Linked DNA regions of Homo sapiens: all the other regions are reported to be linked to region 4. Evidence: microRNA targets listed by miRTarBase, many of them from high-throughput screens and not tested one by one. Region 4 holds a microRNA gene; each other region holds the end of a gene's coding sequence.

Evidence for each region. Region 4 holds the annotated microRNA hsa-miR-6133 (UGAGGGAGGAGGUUGGGUA, at 1,511-1,529, opposite strand). A microRNA usually pairs through its seed, bases 2 to 8, with sites in the 3' UTR of a target mRNA and lowers its output. Matches are read on the target gene's strand: a 7mer-m8 pairs with bases 2 to 8, a 7mer-A1 pairs with bases 2 to 7 and ends in A, and an 8mer does both.
Region 1: miRTarBase lists HYOU1 as a target of hsa-miR-6133. Seed matches in the 3' UTR shown: 7mer-m8 at 864-870, 7mer-A1 at 1,256-1,262 and 7mer-m8 at 1,366-1,372.
Region 2: miRTarBase lists IKBKG as a target of hsa-miR-6133. Seed matches in the 3' UTR shown: 7mer-m8 at 7,228-7,234.
Region 3: the mRNA of IST1 is a reported target of hsa-miR-6133. Seed matches in the 3' UTR shown: 7mer-m8 at 271-277.

The regions. Positions count from the first base shown.
Region 1 is chr11:119,038,639-119,045,956 of GRCh38, reverse strand. It overlaps HYOU1 (hypoxia up-regulated 1), which reads left to right. Exons shown (of 26, transcript NM_006389.5): 25 at 126-176; 26 at 303-1,769. The coding sequence ends at 364. It overlaps HYOU1-AS1 (HYOU1 antisense RNA 1), which reads right to left and starts at 1,769. Exons shown (of 2, transcript NR_186315.1): 1 at 1,212-1,769; 2 at 464-572.
Region 2 is chrX:154,564,132-154,571,972 of GRCh38, reverse strand. IKBKG (inhibitor of nuclear factor kappa B kinase regulatory subunit gamma) reads right to left here. Exons shown (of 10, transcript NM_001099857.5): 10 at 6,940-7,654. The coding sequence ends at 7,512. It overlaps FAM223A (family with sequence similarity 223 member A), which reads right to left and starts at 725. Exons shown (of 1, transcript NR_027401.2): 1 at 13-725. RefSeq lists enhancers at 1,404-2,203, 6,972-7,471, 7,472-7,841.
Region 3 is chr16:71,927,660-71,930,659 of GRCh38, forward strand. IST1 (IST1 factor associated with ESCRT-III) reads left to right here. Exons shown (of 10, transcript NM_001270975.2): 10 at 1-3,000. The coding sequence ends at 154. It overlaps PKD1L3 (polycystin 1 like 3, transient receptor potential channel interacting), which reads right to left. Exons shown (of 30, transcript NM_181536.2): 29 at 2,393-2,524; 30 at 1,879-2,019. The coding sequence ends at 1,879. Among named protein-coding and RNA genes, the nearest start is that of IST1, 34 kb to the left of the region's middle.
Region 4 is chr7:133,289,480-133,292,479 of GRCh38, reverse strand. It overlaps MIR6133 (microRNA 6133), which reads right to left and starts at 1,599; the gene lies at 1,492-1,599. The region is part of intron 3 of EXOC4 (exocyst complex component 4); the gene reads right to left.

The DNA of each region.
Region 1 (7,318 bases), not on the chromosome of region 4:
AGACCAAATGTGGTACATGCATCCTAAAATATTTACTAGCTGGCTCTTCATGGAAAAACTGGCCCAGCCTTCCCTTAGCCTCTTCCTCCCTTCTGAGGAGACTAACCTGTTTCTTCCCAAAGCAGGATCCGAGCCAGGAGACACTGAGCCTTTGGAGTTAGGAGGTCCTGGAGCAGGTGAGGATGGAGCCGGGGCTACGGTGGGAAGCCTGGTGGGGTCTCAGGAAATCCTTTGCAAAGAACTGGGGTTGGTTCCTCTGTTTCACCTGCGGTGATTCCTTTGCTCCCCCAAACTCCCAACAGAACCTGAACAGAAAGAACAATCGACAGGACAGAAGCGGCCTTTGAAGAACGACGAACTATAACCCCCACCTCTGTTTTCCCCATTCATCTCCACCCCCTTCCCCCACCACTTCTATTTATTTAACATCGAGGGTTGGGGGAGGGGTTGGTCCTGCCCTCGGCTGGAGTTCCTTTCTCACCCCTGTGATTTGGAGGTGTGGAGAAGGGGAAGGGAGGGACAGCTCACTGGTTCCTTCTGCAGTACCTCTGTGGTTAAAAATGGAAACTGTTCTCCTCCCCAGCCCCACTCCCTGTTCCCTACCCATATAGGCCCTAAATTTGGGAAAAATCACTATTAATTTCTGAATCCTTTGCCTGTGGGTAGGAAGAGAATGGCTGCCAGTGGCTGATGGGTCCCGGTGATGGGAAGGGTATCAGGTTGCTGGGGAGTTTCCACTCTTCTCTGGTGATTGTTCCTTCCCTCCCTTCCTCTCCCACCATGCGATGAGCATCCTTTCAGGCCAGTGTCTGCAGAGCCTCAGTTACCAGGTTTGGTTTCTGAGTGCCTATCTGTGCTCTTTCCTCCCTCTGCGGGCTTCTCTTGCTCTGAGCCTCCCTTCCCCATTCCCATCCAGCTCCTTTCCCCCTGGGTTTCCTTGGCTTCCTGCAGCAAATTGGGCAGTTCTCTGCCCCTTGCCTAAAAGCCTGTACCTCTGGATTGGCGGAAGTAAATCTGGAAGGATTCTCACTCGTATTTCCCACCCCTAGTGGCCAGAGGAGGGAGGGGCACAGTGAAGAAGGGAGCCCACCACCTCTCCGAAGAGGAAAGCCACGTAGAGTGGTTGGCATGGGGTGCCAGCATCGTGCAAGCTCTGTCATAATCTGCATCTTCCCAGCAGCCTGGTACCCCAGGTTCCTGTAACTCCCTGCCTCCTCCTCTCTTCTGCTGTTCTGCTCCTCCCAGACAGAGCCTTTCCCTCACCCCCTGACCCCCTGGGCTGACCAAAATGTGCTTTCTACTGTGAGTCCCTATCCCAAGATCCTGGGGAAAGGAGAGACCATGGTGTGAATGTAGAGATGCCACCTCCCTCTCTCTGAGGCAGGCCTGTGGATGAAGGAGGAGGGTCAGGGCTGGCCTTCCTCTGTGCATCACTCTGCTAGGTTGGGGGCCCCCGACCCACCATACCTACGCCTAGGGAGCCCGTCCTCCAGTATTCCGTCTGTAGCAGGAGCTAGGGCTGCTGCCTCAGCTCCAAGACAAGAATGAACCTGGCTGTGTCAGTCATTTTGTCTTTTCCTTTTTTTTTTTTTTTTGCCACATTGGCAGAGATGGGACCTAAGGGTCCCACCCCTCACCCCACCCCCACCTCTTCTGTATGTTTGAATTCTTTCAGTAGCTGTTGATGCTGGTTGGACAGGTTTGAGTCAAATTGTACTTTGCTCCATTGTTAATTGAGAAACTGTTTCAATAAAATATTCTTTTCTACAGTTTTTGTGCTGTGAGTTTTTAAAAATAGAAAAATTTTGGGCCAGGCATGGTGGCTCATACCTGTCATCTTAACATTTTGGGAGGCCAAGATGGGAGGATAGCTTGAGGTCGGACCAGCCTGGGCAACAGCAAGACTCTGTCTCAAAAAAAAAAAAAAAAAGTATCTGAGTGTGGGGATGTGTGCCTGTAGACCCAGCTACTTGGGAGACTGAGGCTGGAGGGTGGGTCCCTTGGGCCCAGGACTTCGAGGCTTCAGTGAGCTATGATCGTGCCACTGCACTCCAGCATGTGTGACAGTGAAAACCTCAAAAAGTTTGAATAATTACATCATCAAAATGTTATTGACACTTTGGACTTAGTTGAGATTTGTATATGTATTTTTTTCAAGGAAACAAAATACTGGTTTTATTTTACTGCTAACATTATTTGGACTCCTATATCCCAGGCATTTTTAAGTAACGTACTTTTTTTTTTTTTTTTTCTTTGAGACTGGGTCCTGCTCTGTTGCCCAGGCTGGAGTATAGTAATGCGATCCAGGCTCACTGCAACCTCCGCCTCCCGGGTTCAAGTGATTCTACTGCCCCAGCCTCCTGAGTAGCTGGGATTACAGGCACCTGCCACCATACCCAGCTAAATTTTTTTTGTATTTTAGTAGAGACGGGGTTTCACCATGTTGGCTAAGCTGGTCTGGAACTGACCTGAAGCGATCCACCTGCCTTGGGCTCCCAAAGTGCTGGGTTTACAGGCCTGAGCCACTGGGCCCAGCTGGTAACATTAATTTTTAAAATAGCAACCTCATTGTACAAATAAGATACCAGTTCATAGAGATTTAGCAAGTAATTGGTCCAAGGAATGAATCAATGTTGAGTGCTTCAGCTAGGTTTGAGCTTAATTCTGACCATTCGCCCTTGTTCTTCGTACTTAGCCGTGGGAATGTGTTGGTAGAGACCATTTGTAGCAGTTTCGGTTCATCAGTTTGGGATGCAGCATGCCTAGCCCAAATTTTCTATTACCAAGGGAGGATCCCTCTTGTCACTAATCATGTACATATCTAAGCAGTTGTATACGGTATACAGGGTGTTGCTCTGTCACCCAGGCTGGAGTGCAATGGTGCCATCTTGGCCCACTGCAGCCGCGACCTCCCAGGCTCAAGCAATCCTCCCACCTCAGCCCTGTAGCAGGGACTACCTGGCTAATTTTTGTATTTTCTGGTCGAGACGGGGTTTCACTATGTTGCTCAGGCTGGTCTTGAACTCCTGGACTCAAATGATCTGCTTGCCTTGGCCTCCCAAAGTGCTGGGATTACAGGTATGAGCCACTGAGCTTGGCCCCGTTGTATTTACATTTAATAACCATGAAGGCCCAGCCGGGTGTAGTAGCTCACGCCTGTAGTCCTAGCACTTTGGGAGGCCAAGGCAGGCGGATCATGAGGTCAGGAGATCCGAGACCATCCTGGCTAACACAGTGAAACTCCGTCTCTACTAAAAATACAAAAAATCAGCCGGACATGGTGGCACCCGCCTGTAGTCCCAGCTACTCAGGAGGCTGAGACAGGAAAATCAATTGAACCCGGGAGGATGAGGTTGCAGTGAGCTGAGATCGTGCCACTGCACTCCAGCCTGGGCGACAGCTAGACTCTGTCACACACAAAAAAAATAACCACGAAGGGTTGTCTTTTTTCTCTAAAAGTTGAACAAGTCAGATAAGTTTTGAATGTGGAAGTTTTGGGTTTTTGTTTTTTTTTTTTTGGATGACTTTTAGACAGTTTCAGATTCACAGCAGAATTGAGCAGGAGGTACAGAGTTGCCATATACCTCCTGTCCCCACATACTCAATCTCCCCCAGAGTGGTACATTTGTTACAATCACCCAAAGTTCTGTATGACACCATAATGGTGGGTACATATACATTTGTCAAAACCTATAGAATGTGCAACACCAAGACAACTGAAAGTGTAGACTTTGGGCAAATATGATGAGTCAGTGTAGGTTCCTCAGATGTAACACCTGTAGACCTCTGGTGTGAAGTGTTTATTATGGGGGAAGCTGTGAGTGTATGGAGGAAGGGAATATACGGGAACTCTGTATTTTCCCCTCAATTTTGCTGTGAACCTAAAAGTGCTCTAAAAAAAAAAGGCGAAGCTAAGTGCAGTGACTCATGGCTGTAATACCAGTGTTTGGGGAGGCAGGAGTGGAAGGATCGCTTGAGGCCAGGAGTTTGAGACAACATAGCCAGACCTCATCTCTACAAAAAATAGTAGTCCTAGCTACTCAGGAGGCAGAGGCAGGAGGATCACTTGAAACTAGGAGTTCAAAGCTGCAGTAGATTATGATCGCACCACTGCACTGCAGCCTGGGAGGGAGAGACCCCGACTCAAAAAAAAAAAAAAAAGGCCCGGCGCGCCTTGCCTCAAGCCTGTAATCCCAACACTTTGGGCGGCCGAGGCAGGCGGATCACCTGAAGTCAACAGTTTGAGACCAGCCTGGGCGACAAGAGCGAAACTCTGTCTCAAAAAAAAAAAGGGTGGGGAGGTGGGGGGCAGGCACGGTGGCTCGGGCTAGTAATCCCAGCACCTTGGGAGGCTGAGGCAGGCAGATCACAAGGTCAGAAGTTTGAGACTAGCCTGGCTAACACAGTGAAACCCTGTCTGTACTAAAAATACAAAAATTAGCTTGGCGTGGTGGTGGGCACCTGTAATCCCAGCTACTCAGGAGGCCGAGGAAGGAGAATCACTTGAACCCAGGAGACAGAGGTTGCAGTGCGCCAAGACTGGGCCACGGCACTCCAACCTGGCAACAGAGCAAGACTCCGTCTCAAAAAAAAAAAAAAAAAAAAAAAAAAATCGGGACTAGATGGCTTCACTGGTGAATTCTACCAAATATTTTTAAAATATTTATTTTGGCCAGGGATGGTGGCTCACATCTGTAATCCTAGCACTTTGGGAAGCCGAGGTGAGTGGATTGCCTGAGCTCTGAAGTTTGAGACCACCCTGGGCAACATGGCGAAACACCATGTCTACTAAAATACAAAAAATTAGCCGGGTGTGGTGGTGTGTGCCCGTAGTCCCAGCTACTTAGGAGGCTGAGGCTTGAGAATTACTTGAACCCAGGAGGCAGAAGTTGCAGTGAGCTGAGGTCATGCCACTGCACTCCAGCCTGGGCAACAGAGCGAGACTCTGCCTCAAAAATAAAAATAAAAAATAGCCAGGCCCGGCCGGGCGCAGTGGCTCACACCTGTAATCCCAGCACTTTGGGAGGCCGAGGCGGGCGGATCACCTGAAGTCAGCAGTTCGAGACCAGCCTGGCCAACATGGTGAAACCCAGTCTCTACTAAAAAATACAAAAATTAGCCGGGCTTGGTGGCAGGCGATTTAATCCCAGCTATTTGGGAAGCAGAGGCAGGAGAATCATTTGAACCTGGGAGGCAGAGGTTGCAGTGAGTGGAGATCAAGCCATTGCACTCAAACCTGGGGGATAAGAGCAAGACTTCTCTCAAAAAAAACAAATAGCCAGGCCCAGTGGCTCACGCCTGTAATCCCAGTCAGGATACCTCAGGTCAAGACCAGCCTGGCCAACATGGCAAAACCCCATTTCTACTAAAAATACAAAAAATAGCTGGGCGTAGTGGGGCTGGGCGCAGTGGCTCATGCCTGAAATCCTAGCACTTTGGGAGGCCGAGGCAGGCAGATCACCAGGTCAGGAGATCGAGACCATCCTGTCTAACACGGTGAAACCCCATCTCTACTAAAAATACAAAAAAATTAGCCGGGCATGGTGGCAGGTGCCTGTAGTCCCAGCTACTTGGGAAGGTGAGGCAGGAGAATGGCATGAACTCGGGAGGCGGAGCTTGCAGCAAGCGGAGATCACTCACTGCACTCCAGCCTGGGTGACAGAGCAAGACTCCATCTCAAAAAAAAAAAAAAAATCCTCCTGCCTGTGCCTCCCAGTGTTGGGATTACAAGCATGAGCCATCCTGTTCAGCCAGGGGCTAATTTTGAAACAAGCCAGGAATAAAGACCCAGCTACCTGTGGGGAAAAGAAAGAGAGATCAGATTGGTAATGTGTCTGTATAGAAAGTAGACATAAGAGACTCCATTTTAATCTGTAACCCCACCCCCAACCCTGTGCTCCCTGAGACATGTGCTGTGTCAACTCAGGGTTAAATGGATTAAGGGCTGTGCAAGATGTGCTTTGCTAAACAAATGCTTGAAGGAATCTCAAGTACCCAGGGACACAAAACACTGCGGAAGGCCGCAGGGACCCCTGCCTAGGAAAGCCAGGTACTGTCCAAGGTTTCTCCCCATGTGATAGCCTGAGATATGGCCTCGTGGGAAGGGAAAGACCTGACCGTCCCCCAGCCCGACACCCGTAAAGGGTCTGTGCTGAGGAGGATTAGTAAAAGAGGAAGGAACGCCTCGTTGCAGTTGAGACAAGAGGAAGGCATCTGTCTCCTGCTCGTCCCTGGGCAATGGAATGTCTCGATGTAAAACCCGATTGTATATTCCATCTACTGAGATAGGGGGAAACTGCCTTAGGGCTGCAGGTGGGACATGCGGGCAGCAATACTGCTCTGTAAGGCATTGAGATGTTTATGTGTATACATATCTAAAGCACAGCACTTAATTCTTTACCTTGTTTATGATGCAGAGAACTTTGTTCACGTGTTTACCTGCTGACCTTCTCTCCACTATTATCTTATGATCCTGCCACATCCCCCTCTCCGAGAAACACCCAATAATGATCAATAAATACTAAGGGAACTCAGAGGCCGGCGGGATCCTCCATATGCTGAGCGCCGGTCCCCTGGTCCCCCGATTTCTTTCTCTGTACTTTGTCTGTGTCTCTTTCTTTTCCAAGTCTCTCGTTCCACCTAACAAGGAACACCCACAGGTGTGGAGGAGCAACCCACCCCTTCAGCTACCGAATCCTCCTGTTTAGGGGGAGTCACGACCAATTAATCCAAAACCACCAGGTAGAAGTCAAGATGATGCCAACTGGGCTTCCAGACAAGAAATTACTCAAGAGAGCTATCGGAACAAGACACATAGATACCCTCCTGTACCACTCCCATATGTTTCCCATGCCAAGTTTTTCTTATGAAATCTCTTCACTGAGCCCAAAAAGCTGGAACAGTCTTTTAAAGGCATGAGTCTGGCCATATCTCAACTGTTAGCATTTGATTAATAAAACTGCTCTCTGTAGGCCGGGGGCAGTGGTTCACATCTGTAATCCCAGCACTTTCGGAGGCCAAAGTGGGTGGATCACTTGAGGCCAGGAGTTTGAGACCAGCCTGGCCAACATGGCAAAACTCTGTCTCTACTAAAAATACACAAATTGGCTGGGCGCAGTAGCTCACACCTGTAATCCCAACACTTTGGGAGGCCGAGGCGGGCGGATTACCTGAGGTCAGGAGTTCAAGACCAGTCTGGCCAATATGGTGAAACCCCATCTCTACTAAAAATACAAAAATTAGCCGGGTGTGGTGGCACACGCCTGTAATCCCAGCTACATGGGAGGCTGAGGCAAGAGAATCACTTGAACCCAGGAGG
Region 2 (7,841 bases), not on the chromosome of region 4:
TCTTAGACAACATTTTTAAAATAACGACTTGAGGTTTAATTCACATGCTACACAATTCACATGTCTAAAGTGTACAATTCGATGGTTTTTAGTATATTCATAGATACGTGCAACCATCAGCATGACCAGCTTCAGGACATTCTCATCATCTCAAAAGGAAACTCTGTCTCCATCAGCAGTCACTCCCCGTTTTCCCCCAACTCCTCCAGCCCTGGGCAACAACCAATCGACTTTCCTTAGACAACGTTTTGAGCCCTTATTGGGAGGAATTATAGTCGAATGGAAAATCCAGTTTGGGACGTGGTGTAAACTGGAATTGCTTTCGTGGTTTTTCCTTGTGCCTTGGGTGGGGCACTGCCGTAAGAGCATTGCATCCATCCTTTCGTCGGTACTCTGCTGCACACGGATGGCATTTCTGCCCTTGTTACAGATGAGGAAACTGAGGCTCAGAGACATTAAGCAAGGGGCAGAGTGGGGCTTGTCCATGAGACCCCAGAGTCTGTGCTCTTGCACATACATTATCAGGCCAACATGATCTATCCATCCGAATTCCAAATAAATAAATAAAAATGCTTATAAGAAGTCCCCCCATGCTGCGGGGAGGCAGCGGCTCATGCCTGTAATCCCAACACTTAGGGAGGCACAGGTGGGAGGATTGCTTGAACCCAGGAGTTTGAGACCAGCCCAGGCAACATGACAATACCTGCATCTCTGCAAAAACGAAAAAAAAAAAAAAAAAAAAAAAAAAGACAAAAAGAAGTCCCTCCAAGTTAGTCGCCATGCTCTCTACCATGGGTTTTCTGTGTTATCCCTATCACATGCATACAGTCATTTCTACCAAGCACCATTTATGGTGACAGGGTATGGTCTACAAAAATATTGACAGAGAAATCCTGATGGAGCTCAAGACAAGCTCAGGCCACCAAGAAATGTGCACCGAGTGTAGCTGTGCCGAGCATCGTTCTAGGGCAGGGGTCCCCAACCCCCCGGCCACGGACCGATACTGGTCTGTGGCCTGTTAAGAACTGAGCCACAGAGCAGGCGGCGAGTGGTGGGCACGCGAGCGAAGCTTCATCTGTGTGTACAGCTGCTCCCCATTGCTCGCATGACCGCCTGAGCTCTGCCTCCTGTCAGATCAGCCAGCGGCCTCAGACTCTCACAGGAGCGCAAACCCTATTGTGAACTGTGTGTGCGAGGGATCTAGGTTGTGTGCTCCTTAGGAGCATCTGACTAATGCCTGATGATCTGAAGTGGAAGAGTTTCATCCCCGAACCGTCATCCCACGCCCCATCCCCGTCTGTGGAAAACTCGTCTTCCACAAAACCGGTCCCTGGTGCCAAAAAGGTTGGAGACCGCTGTTCCGGGGGATGGTGCCTGACTGAGCTGGAGGAGGCCTCTGCTCTCCCTCTGGTGGAAGGAGAGAGAAAACAAAGCAGAATAAATGAGGCCGTTTGGACTGCCAAGCTGGGAGTTAAAACAGTGCAGTGTGATTTAGGATGAGGACTTTAAGATGAAGAAGGTGATACGCTTAGAACTGTTGAAAGTTTAAACTTAGAGCTGAATGAGAAAAAGAAATCGGCCATGCAAAGATGAGGGGACAACAAGGACAAGCGCCGTGTGTTCGAGGAAGGGCCAAGAGGCCAGCGTGTGTGAGGTGCGGCCGGCATGTGGTGCGGCTGGGTGCAGCGGGCCAGCAGGAGAGGGACATAACGTGACGTCCCAGCGGCATGAGGGCTCTGCGAGCCAGGCTGAGGATGAGTTCAGGTTTCCAGGGCAACTGAAGGGCATGGCAGGGTTTCAGCAAAGGTTTACCAGATGACACTGGCTGCCATGTGGAGAGTAGATCACAGGGAGCCCACGCTCTCCAGTGTGAAAGCAGCAAGGAGGTCACTGTGATAGTGTAGGCAAAAGGTGAAGGGACTCAGGAGTTTGGATCATGAGAGGAAGAGGAATCCGTTTTGGTTTAAGCAACTGGGGATGAGGGAAAGGGCAGAGTTGGCAGGGGGTGGGGGCTAAAAGTCCATTTCTGGCTTGGACGGGCTACTGGGCTCATTTTCGTGAAGGAACAGATCAGGACTGGAAGACAGAAATCTGTCATCAGCATCAAGGCCTTGAAGATGGACGAGGTCACAAAGGGGCAGTGTCTGAGCAAGGAGAGGAAGAGAATTCGGGAGTCAGCTCGGAGACACAGGAACCAGCAAGGAGCCTGCGAAGCAGCTGCCAGGACGTGGAAGGAGAACCAAGGGGTCTGAGGAGGAGAAAATGATGGTGCTCGGAACTGCAGAACCTCTCGGCAGGCACACTGCACTCAAACCCCTGCCCGAAGACACCCGGCCACCACCTCGCGGGGCCTCTGGGAGCCTAAGGCCGCGCCCCTGGGACGCCCCAGCCCCCTTTTGAGTGAGTTCCCGTCTGGAAACGCTCAGGGCTGCCCAGAGCATGTACTGTCTGTTCCGGCCAACACCTGACCTCCCTTTCTGACAGCATTTACTACAAAGGGCTTACCCTGTCCCTTTGAGACATCTGTGTAGCACCCACAACCCAGGGGCTTTCCCGAGGGCCCCGCAGCCACTCCTTGGAAACGGAAACCTCAGGAGGCGCGGGGCCCAGTCTCCCAGTCTCCACGGGACGGAAGCATCCCAACCTTGGTAAGCACCGGCAGCTCCCACACACGGCTGGCCTCGCGGCAAGGACGCTGGCTGCCCCGTCATCTTTCACCTGAGCCTGCACTCGCCCCCTCCCGACTCCCTCCTTCTCCCTTCGCAAGGCCAGGCCGCCTCTGCTGGGGCGGGAACGGAGCTCAGCTCTCTCCCCCGCAAGCAGGGGTTTCTGAAGAAGATCTCTTTTGCCAGCTTGAACAAAGGCCCGCTTTTGTGTACCTTTGTGTATCTCCGGTGTTCTTGTCAAAAGAGGAGGACAGGCACAGAGGCCCGCGGGGACAAGGCCACAGGATGACGGAGATGGAGGCTGGAGAGGTGCAGCCGGCGGCCCCCGGCGCCGTGGAGAGGCCTGGAAGGCAGCTCCCTCGCGGCCCTGGCGGGGAGCCCACCCTGCCGACACCACCGCTAGCTCAGCCTCCAGGCCTCCAGAAGCGGGAGGCCACGCGTTTCTGTGGCTTCGGCCCCGCAGTCTGTGGTGCTTGGTCACGGCAGCCCCAGGAGACACAGTCAGCCCCTGCCCCGTGCCTTGCTGAGAGGCTGTGTCAACAGCGGGCTCTTCCCTGCCACTGGCACAGAAGAAAACCAAGCTGCGTTACCACCCGAGCGACTGTGTGGGAAGACGTATTCTCTGTGTATCAAAGGAATGCGTGCAAATGATAGGCATTTAGGAAAGGTACTAACATGTAAGGAAAACTTCTCATTACTGGCCACCCAGCTACTCACGTCCGTCCAAATGTTAGCAGGGTATGCACTCAGAGCTTTTACTTCTCTATTGGGGTCACGCTTTATCCATAAGTTTGTCACCTGGCCTGTTCACACCAACATGCTACAAGGCATGTTGCGTGTGAGGAGATGTTCAAAATGCCAGCTGTGCCGGACCACATCGTTACATACGCAGCCTCTTATCTCACCCCGACCTTTGGCAGCTACAAATGACGAAGTGAAGCACCTTCCCAATGCCAGAGTCATCGCTGAGTGCCCGACTCTCTCTTAGGGTTACGCACCAGGGCTGAGGACGCTGCCTACGGGCTTGCTCCATCCCAGCAAATGGCCCCCTCGGAAAGGGCAGCATTGCAAGGGCCGCTGTCCTGCACCTTGCCAGCAGAGCGCTCACCTAGGGCTTCATCGGTTGCCATTTTCAGATCACTTTTTGCTTGCCGTCAGACTTGCTGTTGTTTTAGTTACTGATGAGGGTGAAATGCTTTCTCACTGTGCTTACTGGTCGCCCGCACTGTTCTTGTGCATTGGTCGGCAGGAGGGGGAGCGCGCATGAACACCAGAGAACGCCACAAGCTCCGGCAGGGATGGGCTTCGTTTGTGGATCAAGGGGCCGCAGCCAATAGGGCAGGCAGGCTGGTTCCCTCCCAAGAGTAATCCAACCAGTTGTTCTGGAAGCTCAACCTAAGTAAAGCCGAAAAGGAAAACCCTGGAATGCCGTACTTCTGCGCAAATGGTATGGTTTTAAATCCTTGGTGTCTGGTGTATGGTCAACCCTACACTGTGCTACCGGAGGAGGGAGGAGGCAGCCCCACCTCCGGGCAGGGCGGTGGGTCTAGACCAATGCCTGGTGGGTCTAGACCAAGATTCTGACTCGGTTGGTCCAGGGGGCCCAAGCAGGGGTGTTTTTCCAGCTCCCAGGCACTGCTGCTGCATTTGCCCTCATCTGTGTGCACTGGAACATGTCCCCATACTGGGTTGTGTGATGGCCCTGAAGAGATACGTGCATATCTTATGGGTGTGACCTTCTTTGGGAAAAGGGTCTTTGCAGATGTAATGAATGCCGAGATGAGGAGATCATTCTGGATTATCCAGGTGGGCCCTACATCCAATGACTGGTGTCCTTTATGAGACAAAAGGGAAGACACAGACGAAGAGGAAGAGACTGTGTGATGACAGAGGCAGAGACTAGGGTGATGGCTCTATAAGCAACCAGCAGAGGCTAAGACAGAGACCTGTAAACGATTCTCTTGGCACCTGCAGAGGAAACCAGCCTTGCCGGACATAGTGGCGGGCACTTGTAATCCCAGATACTCGGGAGGCTGAGGCACAAGAATTGCTTGAACCCTGGAGGCGGAAGTTGCAGTGAACTGAGATGGCACCACTGCACTCCAGCCTGGGTGTCAGAGCAAGACTGTATCCAACAAGAAAGAAAGAGAGAAAGAGAGAGAGGAGAGAGAGAGGGAGAGAGAGAGGGAGAAAGAAAAGAAAGAAAAAAGAAAGAAAGAAAGAAAGAGAAAGAGAAAGAAAAAGAAAGAAAGAGAAAGAAAGAAAGAAAGAAAGAGAAAGAAAGAAAGAAAGAGAAAGAAAAAAGAAACCAGCCTTGCTGACAACTTGATTGCAGACTGTGGCTTCCAACACTGTGAAGGAGTTTCTGTTGTTTTAAGCCCCAAGTGTGCAGTCCTTTGTTACAGCAGCCACCGTCTACTCATACACCCTCCCTCCAAAAAAAAAATGTAAAGTGCTCTTGTAGAAAAATTGCAAGATTAGGATTTAAGTGCAGCACCCGTGAGCAGACAAGCTGTCTGTGCCTTTCACATTTTCCCAAGTAGAATCTGATGGGCACCTGGCTTGAAGAAGGGGAAAGGTCACTCCCCGCCCCCACACCCCGCCCCCAGATGCTGAGAAAGCCCTCAGGCCAGGTTAATTTTTAGAAGGCCTCATATCCCAATTCTAGCCAGCCTCACACTGTCAAATAGCAGGAAGCCCTGTGAGGAAGCCTCAGGGTGGATTCACAATATCCCGTTCCCAACCAGGGCAGCTTGGAGGAGGGCAGGAAGGAAGGCCCGGGTGCTGGGGAGTCAACTTCCAACTTTGTTTCCTTTGCTACAATTGCAGGGTTAATGCCCAGGGCTCTGACACCCCGGGAAATTTCCAGAATCTTGCAAAACAAGTAGAGTCGTCTGTTCTTCCTAATTGGGGCCAGTGTGGGAAATGGCATCACAAACTTCTGGAATATGATGAAACAGCCATCACCAGTCACACTGGGCAACAACACTCTTGGTGAAGACAAGAGCACGCTTCGGTGTTAGAAAAAGAAAAGTGCTCATGTGTGAAGCATCCCTCCCACAGACCACAAGGTGGTCACGACGACTCCAAAGTCAAAGCAGTAAAAGGGGGAAAAAATGGATAAATGTGACTACATAAAGAAAAAAAAACTTCGAGGCTGAGAAGCACCAGTAGTTTAGCAGGGTGTGGTGGCGCACGCCTGTGATCCCAGCTACTCGCAAGGCCGAGGCAGGAGGACTGCTGGAGCTCAGGAGGTCAAGGCTGCAGTGAGCTCTGATTGTGCCACTACACTCCCACCCGGGTGACAGAGACCTTATCTCAAAACAAAAAACAAAGAAACACTAGTAGCGAGGTCAAAGCAGGAAAAGATATCTGCAATTTCTATCACAGCCACAAACCCAATCCTGCTCATGGACAAAGAGTTTCTAAAAGCTGAGCAACAAAAGATAACCCAGTAGAAAAACGGATAAAAGATATGAGCAGCCCAGCGGGGCGCAGTGGCTCACACCTGTAATCCTAGCACTTTGGGAGGCCGAGGCAGGCAGATCACCTGAGGTCAGGAGTTTGAGACCAGCCTGGCCAAAGTGCTGAAACCCCCATCTCTACTAAAAATACAAAAATTGGCCAGGTACAGTGGCTCACACCTGTAATCCCAGCACTTTGGGAGGCCAAGGCAGGTGGATCACGTGAGGTCAGGAGTTCGAGACCAGCCTGGCCAACATGGTGAAACCCCATCTCTACTAAAAATACAAAAATTAGCCGAGCGTGGTGGCAGGCGCCTGTAGTCCCAGCTACTAGGGAGGCTGAGGCAGGAGAATAGGTTGAACGCAGGAGGCAGAGGTTGCAGTGAGCTGAGATCACGCCACTGCACTCCAGTCTGGGCGAGAAGAGCAAAACTCTGTCTCAAAAAAAAAAAAAAATACACACACACACACACACACACACATACATATACACAACTATACATATACATATATATATATGATATGAGCAGCCCATTCAGAAGCAGAACTAAAAAAGGTCCTTAAAGCCTCAGGAAAGATGTTTAAGCTCACTCTTAACAGAGAACTGCATGGCCTAGCGAATGACAAAAACCCAAACGGGCTTTCCCACCTCCTCCTTGGCAAGGCTAGGGAAATAGGGGGTGGGGAGAGATGGGAAACCAAGCTCCAAGGAGGAAGGGGGCTCAGGTACCATCTACGCCATCGCCCATGCTCAGTGGTGTCACTTCTCAGAATCTATGCCAAAGATACGCACGACTAATGCACAAGGATTTTTACTATGCCATTATTTATGGTAACAAAAAGATGGGAAACAACCCAAATGTCCATCAATAGTGACTGGTTAAATACACATCGGTCTGGCTGCAAAATGGAATAGCATGCAGCCCAAAAGGAGAGCACCCGTGTGCATGGTAAGAGGGCAGCACTCCCAGGGCACAGCGGCGGGCGGGTCGGTGTCCGGTGGGAGGAAGAGCGGCCACCCAGCTCTGCCAGGGGAAGCAGTTCTCCCTGAGAGCCCCAGGCCCCATTCTTGACTTCCCCAGTGCCGGGTGGAGGAAGAGGGAGGGATTAGCCCGAGGCAAGTGGTTCGAGCAGACAGAAGGGAACAAAAAGAGCAGCGAGTCAGGCCTGATCGGGGCCGCATCTACCCCAAAAGAGGGGACCAGCGGATCAACAGCTGAAGCGTAAGGTGCCGCGGCCAGCTCCTGGGTGGGGCTCCAGGTGGCATCCCAGTTGTGGCCACCCAGCCCTTCATCCTGGGCTAGGCAGGCGGGAGAGGAAAGCGCAGACTGCACGGTCCCGGGCACGTCCTCGGCAGGCAGTGGCCTTGCACTGGCCGGCCCTACTCAATGCACTCCATGACATGTATCTGCAGGGTGTCCATATCAGGGGCCTGATACTGGCACTTGGGACAGCAGAAGTCAGGTGGCTCCTCGGGGGGGCTCCTCCTCTGGCTGGGCAGGGCCAGGGGAGAGGAGAGGTAGGCTGGGAAAAGAGAAGAGTCAGAGGGAAGGGGAGGATGGAGGGGGACGGAGACTTGGCAGGACTGTCAATGGCAGGCCTGGTCTCACAGGCCACTCATGTAAGACCAGGAGCCGCCGCTACCACGGCATGCCTCCCTTAGCCTCGGGGAAGGGGGTGGGCTACCGATGGGGTGGCCTACACGAGCTCC
Region 3 (3,000 bases), not on the chromosome of region 4:
TGCAGATAACTATGACAACTTTGTCCTACCAGAGTTGCCATCTGTGCCAGACACACTACCAACTGCATCTGCTGGTGCCAGCACCTCAGCATCTGAAGACATTGACTTTGATGATCTTTCCCGGAGGTTTGAAGAGCTGAAAAAGAAAACATAGGTCTCTTAAACCAGGCAACTTTCACGTTTTGGGAGTTGAGACTGAGCAATTTCTCCTTGTAACAAAGAATCTCCATGAAATTCTGTTTCATCTGTTAACCGTCACTCAGCACAACACTCCCTCTGGGCTCTCTTCCTGCTCCTCCAGATTCTGCTGCTTTCCAGTTCTCTGTTGATCCTGAGACTAACAATTGGAGACTGAGGCCAGAGCAACTGGCTCCTGGCAGCTGTGCTTGTCCGTTTCCTGTCAGAGTGATCCCAGGTTTCCTCCTGGCCCGTCCCATGGTCCCTCCACAGGAGTGTGAGAGGATGGGGGAAGCACTGTGGGAAGACCACCAAAGATGGCTGGACAGTGGGAGAGAGCACGTTGTGAAGCATCCCAGCCTCGTGTTGAGGTTCCAGACTTAGAAACAGACCCCTCTGTACAGGGGGATTGTGGTGAGTGAGAATCAAGGCCACCTTGTGTGTTTTCTCACTCTCGAATGCAAGTGGGAGAGGGAAAATGACTCGGGACGCCATTGTAACGGTTCCTGGAAGCTGGGCCCTCTCATTGGCATATACAGTACTCCTCGCTGCAGGGCACTGTCCCACCGGGATCCAGTTGCAAAGTTTGTCTTGACAGTTGAAGGCCTCGCTTAGTTGTACTGGATTCTCAGGGAGCCCTCTGTGGCCTTTTGCTTTGCGTGCTGTTTCCCTTGTACCAGAGGGCGGCACCGTGGAAATTCTGTTTTCCCTGTAGCATATTGTGTTGGATTGCATTACTGGCAGAGAAAGGACAAGGTGCCATTCAAGTCCTAGGGTGGGCTTCCAGCTGCCTTAATAGAAGTACTCAAGTCTTTTGGGTAGTGAGCTGGAAAGCCTACAGGAAAAGAGGGGTACCTGTTTTCATTTGAAAACTTTGATTCATGGAACCTTTAAAACTAATCTCAGAAAAATTTTTGGTGCCCATGCAGCTGTAGTTGTTCACTGCTTTCCTGGATGGATGGGACTCTTATGTCATAACTTCTGTTACTCCTTTGGCCCATAGCTAAGGTCATCCTTCCCCACAGGGGTGGCTTTGGGATTGGATGATACAGCTTTTGCTTCTGTGTAGTATACCTGTACATACTTGTTTCAGGCAGCCTTTCTTTAATGTTTTCAGTTGGTTTGTATTCTGTAGCTCAGTAGCTGCTAATAAAGTTAAAGATCCTGTGTCCTGCTTTCTCTACTGTTTGGTCAGATGATGAAGTATAAATCTGGATTTTAGTGGAGAATATTTTAACCAAGTGATCCATGTAAACCAGCCCTTAGTTTCAGGATTCCTGGAGCAGTACAGAGCTCATTTTGATCTCTGTATTTAGATAGCCCAGATAGCATCTGTGAATTTCCTTGGTCTTCCTCAGTGGCAGGGCTCCGCATCTGCCATGCCTCATCCTTGGATGTTTATTTTTAGTAAGTTGCAGTGAGCTCACTTCTGACTGCTTCATTTCCCGCAGCCATCCTGGGCCATGGGTGGTGAGTTCTGTTACTTGCTGCTTGGCAGCAGAGCTAGTTTGTCTCGTAGTATTCTTGCATTGTTAATCCTATCTTGACAGTGCCAAGATCCATAAGAACTTGGGACCAAGGGGATTTTGATTCCTAACTTACAGAATTAAAAACAAAGTATATTATAATTTTAAAGCTATGCCATGCAAAGATAAGTAGTAATACGCTAATAAATACTAAGCCAAGTAGGAGATAACAGGATTAAGGTAGTTCATCTAAAACTTCAGTGTCACTGCCCACTGCTGTCGTGGCTGCTTGCTCAGATGAGGTTTTTTGGGGCCAACTGATTCCTAACAAATTTGAGAGCTTCTGTAGCAGTGTATCTATTAGTGCAGCTTCTTTCTGAGTATTGAAGACAAAAAGAGAAAAGTGAGAAAATTGAAATTACTGCTAATAGTGGAGTAAAAAAAGTACCAAAGATTTTTAAAAAATTAGTAAATGTAAAGATACTATTTCTTTAATAATTTGCAGTCAGGCATTGGAGTGTTTCCACTAATGGTTGCGAGCCAACTATTTATAGGACAATGGCTATAGAATATTATGTAGTCTTATAAATTGGGTTTCCTAGGAAGATAGCTGGCAGAGCTTTTGAAACTAATAAAGGGAATATGATACTGTGCATTATAAATTATGTCAGCCCGTCATCTTAGGGGCAGTTACAGTGGAGCTTTCCCAGTGATATAACAGCATGCTAGTTTATCTTTTAGTTACCTACCTTAAGCGACTTTCTTTCTTTTCCAAAGGCCATGAGAATGGCCGAAACGAAAAGATTAATTACCACAAGTACCATCAAGATGACACTGGTGAGGATCAGAAAGGTGCCCAGGACTGGGTCTAAAGCGAAAACCTGGGAAAACAATAAGAACACTTGCAGTGACTGACAATTTAGTTTATACTTTACAAACATAAGCTATATGCTAGTGTTTGGGATCTTATCAGAAGAAAAGCTTATCCGAAGGAAACTTAGGGAGAGAGTCAAAAGATAATAAGAAGGAAAATACTTTTAAATGGACAGAAGAGCAGGAATGACTCATTTTAAGGAGGTTAAGATAATTGTGACTGCAGGGCTTTCACAAGAAAACAGGTGAGTTGCAGTGGAATTGGAAATGATTCAAATGTCACATGAGTTTTGGCAAAAAATACATCTAATCATGGAAGCTAAAAGTGGGAGGGGGGTAAGCAAACACTGAAAGATTAAATGCATACCAGAAATGAGAATGCACACTGTCTCTGCCATATCAAGAAACTACAACCCTAAACACAGGAGCATTCCAATAAAAGTTAACAGGTTGGCCACAGAAAACTGGCTTTTTAGTATTTTTT
Region 4 (3,000 bases):
CTACTGTTTTAAAAGACAACAACAAAAAAATGAAATACCCAGAAATAAATCTAACAAAATACATATGATACCTCTAAGGACTATATATATTGCTAAGCATTATCAAAGGACACAAATGAAGATTTTAATAAATGAAAGGAATATTAGGTTCACAGATAAGAACACAACATTGCAAAGATAATTCTCTTAAATTCAATCAATTAGCTATTGAAGGTTCAAGTGATTCTCCAGCCTCAGCCTCTGAGCTAGCTGGGATTACAGGCATGCACCACCACACCCATCTAATTTTGTATTTTTAGTAGAGATGGAGTTTCACCATGTTGGCCAGGATGGTGTCAATCTCCTGACCTCACGTGATCTGCCCACCTCAGCCTCCCAAAGTGCTGGGATTACAGGCGTGGGCCACCATGCCTGGCCACAAAGACAATTTTGAATAGCAAGATGAGAGAATCTCTTCACCTCCTATCAAGATGTATTATAAAGTTACAGGAGTTAAAACAGCATGGTTTGGGTGCAGGTACAAATAACACCATTAAAACAAAATAAAGAGCTCAGAAACAGATCCATGCATATGTGATAAGTTGCTGTGTGACCAAAATAGCATCATGAATCAGTAGAAAAAGGATTCAATAAACAGCCTGAGCCAACAGACTATATAGAAGAAAGATAAAATTAGATCCTCAGTTAATACCATATATAAAAATGGACTTTCGACGGGTTAAAGAAGAAAACATAGGAGATTCTCTTAGAACACTGGGATGGAAAAAAAATTTTCTTGCATCAAAAATCACATAACAGGCCGGGCAGAGTAGCTCACGGCTGTAATCCCAGCACTTTGGGAGGCCAAGGCAGGCAGATCACTTGAGGTCAGGAATTCCAGACCAGCCTGACCCAACATGGTGAAAACCCATCTCTACTAAAAATGCAAAAATTAGCCAGGTGTGGTGGCACACACCTGTAATCCCAGGTACTTGGGAGGCTGAGGCAGGAGACTCACTTGAACCTAGGAGGCAAAGGTTGTGGTGAGCTGAGATCACACCACTGCACTCCAGCCTGGAAAACAGAGTGAGCCTGTCTCAAAAAAAAAAAAAAAAAATCACATAACAAAAAATACTGAGAAATTGAGAAATTGTTTTGCATTACGATTTTTAATTTCTTTATAACAAAGACACTATAAACAAAGGAAAAAGACAAATCCCCAATTGGGAGAAGATATCTAACAGACAAGAAGAATTAATATCTAGAATATATAAACAACCAAACAGAAAACGAAACAAAACCTCCGGAAAATGTGTCTTACAAACTCACTCTTTTCTGGACATGACTGTTCTTCCTCCCTATACCACGCCCCCTGCCCCAACCAGATAGTTTTATTGATGATTATCATACCCAACCTGGCTCAATCTAGCTCCTAACCCTAGATTTCTGAATTATGAAAAAAAAAAAGATTATTTTCTTCTGTAAAGGTGGAAAGATGTAGACATAGCCTATGCCCCCTGTTTTCCCTCAATACCCAACCTCCTCCCTCACACATGAAGAGACCAGTCTTCAGCAGAACAATGAAGAGGGCATGCAGAGAAAACACACAGGTGACATTCCACATACATGCCTATTCCTTTGGCAGACTGGTTACATGAGTCAAACAATTATTTTTACTTAAGCTAGCTAGAGTTGAATTTCTGTAACTTACAACCAAGAATTTAAAGAAGTTATTTAATGAGTCTTGAGGAAAATATGTCAGAAAAAAAGGGACAGTATTCATTATTGATTAGCCCTTAAGTAAATAAATTAGCCCTTAAGAACAAAGACCGTAACACAAAAATCTGAAATCCTAATATGAACATAATTAACACAGAAATAAATTCTAACAACCTATTTTAATCTGTGGCACTTACTTAAAAGCAAGCCCACTCCAAAAAATCATGATTCAAATAGATGTATATTTGCTACACAAATGTATACTTGCTTATCTATTCTGATTGCTGAATCTTGAGAATATAGGACAAGTATGCATTCATAATGCATAAATCAACACTAAAGGTGAAAAGTAATTTTTTTCTATCAGACACCCTATAGTCATTATTATTAAAGAAGCTGCCACTTTGAATAAGATGCTGAAAATAACCAATTCTTTTGTCATTCCCAAGAGTCAATCTTTTTTTGTTGTTTATTGGGGTTCTTTTTGAGACAGAGTCTTGCTCTATCGCCCAGGCTGGAGTACAGTGACCTGATCATGACTCACTGCAGCCTTAAACTCCCAGCCAAGGGCCAACCATTATTAATCTCCTTCCACTGTGGAAATTGACCATTCAGTCTTATCACATAACCAGGTTTTAATATCTGATAGAATATCATGGCACTTCTCACTCCTTGGTTACCAAATTTCCTTTAAAAAGCTTCTTATGAAGGACTTTTAGCAAAATTCTTCTTGGAAGTCTGAATGAATTAGAACCACTTAGAGCATTTAATCTGTGTCCCTACCAATTCCCCTCAGTGTTTTTTCCAGTGTTAAAGCCAATCTAATTTGGTGAAACAAAGGTAAAGGACTTTCACCTACTGTGGGGAAGGAAAAAACAACAATTCAAATACAGCCCATCTGCTGCTCAGAGCTCCTATAGAGAGCTTCCTTAACCAACTCTGAATGAGATGGAAGTGGGACTGGGTGGGTAAAAGGGAAGGGAGAAAGAGCAGCCCTCTCTAAGAGCCACAGGCCTTGGGAAAGAGGATTATTAGGGAGCAAACTCTGTATTTCTACTTTTTATTCATCTTCTTGACGCTCAGCCACATGAACCACCAATTGCATCCTTCTGGGAACTTTCAGCAATTCAAAAAGGAGCACACACAATGGACTAAGATGGAGGCTAAAGGCTAGATTGTGGAGTACTCTTGGTCAATAAAGTTGCTTCCAGTATTAGTCTCCCAAAATTTTATTTCTTATCAATTTCAAGGAAAAGAACAAAGCCCTAATGTAAAAATTCCTTCAAAAAATGTGTGGAACAC